Linked DNA regions of Homo sapiens: region 2 is linked to region 1. The links come from fine-mapping of genetic effects on gene expression. Tissue or cell type: whole blood. Region 1 holds a variant in brackets; the other region holds the start of a gene. All regions are shown on one strand. Distances are between the middles of the regions.

Region 1 (2,767 bases):
TTGACTCTCCACAAATAAAACTATAAGGCAGTTTTTCCCATTGTGATGCTTTTGTCTACAATCTTAATTGTTAACTCTTCCAAAGAATAAACACACAATATATCAATTTTTTAACCCATTTAGGTAGAAATATGGGTATATAGAAAGGAAGAAAGCAAGGTTAACGGTGAGCAGTGGCTAAATGAACAAGAGAACATTCAGTTAAGTATCTCATCTCCAAAATGGTATAAACTGTGGCAGAAAGTACTTTGTTGAATCAATAGTTTCGAGACAGACATACAGTAGGGACATCGAAGGTACAAAATAGAGCACTGATGAAGGAGTGAATTATCATCTTCACAGATGAGTAGAGAAAGAGAAGGTCTAAATATTGAGATGAGAATATAGAAATTTCTGATGCACAACACAGCTCAGAAATTCAATCTGAATATATTCCAATTCAGTGCCTTGCAATAGATCCATAATGATCGCCTATCTTTCCAGCATACAAAGCAATGCATATCATTTAAACATTTTTCTAGCATGAAAATGTGCCTGGGTTATGCAATACACACTTTACCAAAATATGATTTTGGTGGCTGTAAGCACTTAATTGTAATGACCTGTAAAATGAGCAACATTTTTAACTCCGAAATTCTAATCAATATTAGTTAATGAGGTGTGTGACAACTTATAATGCTTTTAAATACTCTTAGTGGCCATCATAATACAAATTTTCCCACTTACAGCATATTTAATTTTAATCCTTGCAATAATATAAATGAAATACATCTAAAACACTTTATAGTAAGCACTCAAGTAAAAGTCCCCATAACATGGCCTTAAAAAAGGTTAATCTTTTAACAATGGGGTCATGAAAACATTTTTGTTATAGATATTTTTATGTTCCTCCTTGTATCAATCAGGATTAAATTTTCAAATATTCATACCATTTAACAACAGACTGAATAAATAACAAAGTTGTTAACACAAAATGAATAAATGTTTTGTATACATTAAAAATAGAAGATAGAAAAAATAACTTGGTAATGTGTTTAAAATATTTTATGGCCTCTACCCCATTATGTTATTCCATTTTCTCATAACTGTAGACCTTTAGCTACCAAACAGAGGGAAGGGGCATTGTACACTAGTTACCTAGAAAACAAATCATTTATAGGTCTTATTTTTGGAAAAGGA[G/A]ATATCTTTTAATTCAACTAAAATGTAAAACATTGGAAGTGTCCCCCTATCAAGGCTTAGTTTTACTATTGCTTAATATAGATGAAGAAAAAATAAATCATATACTAAACTCGGGAAGCTTGGGTTTTCTCTTAAAGTAAGCCATGCTGTGATTGTTCCATCTAAACAGTTATATCAACTTTACTTTGTATCATATGAAAACAACAGCCTGCTGAATGACTATGTATTGTCTATTTCCACCTGCTAAACAAGATAAGACCACATGAAATAGGATCAGCTTAGCCATTACCTTCAGGAAGCTTCAGACATATTGTTTATTGCAAATGGACATATATTATAAATGTATATACAGACACATCTTTGTGATATTACTTCCTGAAGTATGTTCTTATGGAAATTTAACTTTGTTCATCCAGTCAGATTTCCAGAAATGTATCTACTGTGACAATTAATATCTTATTCTCCAACTCTTTGTTTTTCTCATTCTGTACTTACTTTGCTTTCATCAAAGACATTTTAGCAAAATTAATTTCCAGGACCATTTTCTTAGTGAACTAATGCCATTTGATCACCAATGGCCATTTTCGTTTTTATCTCGAGGATCACATTGGGCATTTGTCTCTGACTTTTCAGTCAGTTTATAATGCATTCTTGTTCCCTTTGGAGGATGTTTGTTCTTTTTTTCTCTGCCCGCTCCCAACATTAAAATCCAAGGTAAACTCTTAATTAAGTGGAGTTGACAGAAGTCACATTTTCTCTATAAAGAACAATTGGAATCCACTGGATTTGCCCTATCAAGAAAAAAGAAAATCATATCTCCAAGAGTAGGTATTGGTAATTAATTAATCCCTAATCTTTTTGAAAAGTATCTGTATTAGTCCATTTTCATGCTGCTGATTAAGTCATACCTGAGACTGGGTAATTTATCTTAAAAAAAAAAAAAAAAAAAGAGGTTTAATGGACTCATAGTTCCATGTGGTTGGGGAGGCCTCACAATCATGGCAGAAGGCAAAAGGCACATCTTACATGGTGGCAGGCAAAGGCAATGAGAGTCAAGAGAAAGGGGAAATCTCTTATAAAATCATCAGATCTCCTGAGACTTATTCACTACCACAAGAACAGTATGGGGAAAACTGTCCCCCATAATTCAATTATCTCCCACCAGTTCCCTCCCACAAGATGTGGAATTATGGGAGCTACAATTCGAGATAAGATTTGGGTGGGGACACAGCCAAGCTGTATCATTATCAGATATTGTATTCATCTGGTAGTGGTCAGTAAATCTGTGCACAATCTCAGAGTTGGCTGATTTTTGCTTTTCCATCCTTGCTATCTCACACCAGTGGTTTCCATCCTAAAGTACACAAACCATGTTATTTTTCTGCTCTTTGATTTCCTAAGCAGTATACCAGCTACTTTAGGACTGTGTTCCTGTACAGTGCCCCTTTTCTTCACGACCACCTACAAATCTATTAAGTACTTAAAGACTTTTTTCCTGTGATGGGGATTTTGATGCTTGTTTGTTCTTTCTATGCCAATTTCATACACTTCTGAGTCTCATCCATATGTCCCAACTGCTCCCTCTAAA
Region 2 (2,616 bases), 360 kb before region 1:
TGGGGTCAGTCCAGAAGCCTTCGGATGGCACCAGGAGGTAGCCCCAGCCAGAAATCCTCAGTTGCTCCAGGACCTCTTCCAGCCCCACACGACAGCTTGGTCCTCCGTGAAAGGAAACTGGTTCAAACATGGCCAATATGCCCAGCAGCCCGTGGGTATTGGGGGGTTCTCCATGTTCTCCCCAGCAAGCCTGTCCCCCAAAACTTGTAAGGCTGGCAGCCACGCTCATAATTTTTAAATGGCTAATTGGTGAAGGCAGAGTTTTCTCATTCACAGAAGCAGAAGGGGGCCCAGTATTTGGTTTGGTTTGATTCTAAAATGGAGGCCAAGAGCCTCGAAATCAAAGGACAGAGTTGAGGTCCGCCCCTTTACTCACCTTTGCAATGAATGCACCTTGGAATCCCAGACGAAGTCCCCAATATGAAGTGGCATTGTTGTCTGGGGTCAATACCCGGGGTTCGTCGTCTCGCACCAACAAGGTTAAGGACACGATACACACGAAGAGTGGGTTTAGGAGCGGAGGTTTAACACGCAAAAGAAAAAGGAGAACAGCTCTCTCCCTTGTGAGAGAGAGCGGCTTCCGAAAGGAAAATCCCAGGTTCGATCGTTTCTTATAATGGCTCACAGAACTCAGAAACTTTACTTATGTTTACTGCTTTATTATAAAGGATACAGATGAACAGGCAGTCGAAGAGGTACACAGGGCAACGTCCAGAAGGGTCCCAGGTGAGCACAGGACCTTTTGTCTTCATGCAGTTTGAGGTGCATCGCCTTCTTGGTATGTGGTTGGGGTTAACCAAACCGAAAGCTCTCCAAACCTGTGGTTTATTTTTTAATGGAGGTGCCATCACTTAGGCATGATTGGTTAAATCACTGGCAACTGGTGGTTAATCAATCTCCAGCCCTTTTACCCTCTCTGGAGGTCGAGGCGTGGGGCTGCAAATCCCAGACCTCTAATCATGCCTTAGTCTTTCAGGGGATAGCCCCCATCCTGAAGTTGTCTAAAGGATCCCAGCCACCAGTTAGCTCACTGTCATACACTCTTATCACTTGGAGATTCCAAAGGTCTTAGAAGCTCTTGTGTCAGGAACCAAGACCAAGTATTCTAATAAAAGATGTTTCTATCACCCCTGTCACTCAGGAAATTACAAGGGTTTCTGGAGATCTGTGCCAGGAACTGGATGAAGATCAAATATATATATTTATTATATCACAATATTGCAGCCTACTACTTGCCAGGCACAATTCTAAGCACTTTACATGTGTCCACTTAATTCCTTTAACAGTCCAAAATCAGCTATTGCTATATCATCTCCATATTACAGATAAGGAAACTCAAGCACATAGGGGTTAAGGTTAACCAGTGATCTGGCTAGTCTGTACTTTTACCTGATGTTGTGCTGCCATACAGACTAGATATATTTTTTTTTTTTTTAGACTGAGTCTTGCTCTGTTGCCAGGCTGGAGTGCAATGGCGTGATCTCAGCTCACTGCAAACCCAGCCTCCTGGGTTCAAGTGATTCTCCTTCCTCAGCCTCCCCAGCAGCTGGGACTACAGGCACATGCCACCTCGCCCAGCTAATTTTTGTATTTTCAGTAGAGACAGGGTTTCACCATGTTGACCAGGATGGTCTCGATCTCTTGACCTCGTGATCCGCCCACTTCGGCCTCACCAAATGCTGGGATTACAGGCGTGAACCACAGCACCCAGCCAAGACTAGATTTTTAAGAAAAGGCAATCCAGATATCCTAGAAGGTTCATTTCCTCTTTTTGGTGGTTTAGCAAATTTCTTAGTAAGGCTTCTAGCTGTTATAGCAGCATTAGTATGTGAACCACAGTTAAGCTCTAGTCCAACAAGGCCATTTCTTCAGCAGAGAAGCAATTGTTAAATAATCGACCAAGTATTCATTGGCTCCCTCTTTTTGTATCAACATACACAATTGTTACAGTGCCAGTGTTTATTGGAACCACTTTCCATGGTGCATCCAGCTGTGCCTAGACCAGCAGGTCTTTTTCCAGAAGTCCAGATGGCAGGGGAACCTCTTCACGTTGTTGACCCTTCTCCCTGTAATTTTTTCCCCAATAAACCTTTTCATTATGTTGCTGTATTTATACCCAAATACACATTACATTTATTTTAGTACCTTGTACATTTTGTTGCCCTTATAAATTGGAGGGGTTTTAAAAACTATTTTTTATTCTCAATATTCATTGATGATGTATAGGACTCCTTCTGGACTGTTTAATATATGACTGTAAATCCCCCTGAATTTTCTTAGATGTTTGTAGTATCTGATTATGACAGTTTTGTCTTTTATTTATTGCCTTGTTGCATTGATTAGGTCCTCTAATATAATGTTGCTTAATAATGAAGATAGATATCCTATCTTATTCTTGACTTTTGGTATAAATTCTTCTAAAGTTTGAGCATTAAACATGATGTTTGATGTAGATTCTTAGTGGATACTCTTTAGCAGTTAAAGTAACTTCTCTTTTACTTCCAGTGACACTACTACCTAATTTGAAGAGAGGATTTGGAATTTTGAGTTTCAAAATAATACTGTTTTCAAACACTTTTTTAGCTAAAAAGTACACACACATAGGGCAGTGTTTTA

The links. PIP is the estimated chance that this variant, and not a neighbour inherited with it, causes the effect.
Region 2: it holds the start of NAIP, and the variant in region 1 is fine-mapped to the expression of NAIP in whole blood (TOPMed, PIP above 0.99). The same link has a PIP of 0.9 or more in thyroid.

What each region holds. Positions count from the first base shown.
Region 1 is chr5:71,378,909-71,381,675 of GRCh38, forward strand. All of the region lies in intron 2 of LINC02197 (long intergenic non-protein coding RNA 2197), which reads right to left. It also overlaps the pseudogene PMCHL2. Among named protein-coding and RNA genes, the nearest start is that of LINC02197, 66 kb to the right of the region's middle. The variant G/A (reference allele first, on the strand shown) is at 1,180.
Region 2 is chr5:71,023,942-71,026,557 of GRCh38, forward strand. NAIP (NLR family apoptosis inhibitory protein) reads right to left here and starts at 1,398. Exons shown (of 17, transcript NM_004536.3): 1 at 674-1,398; 2 at 377-465. RefSeq lists promoters at 1-1,757, 1,162-1,526 and cis regulatory regions at 948-1,161, 1,527-2,616.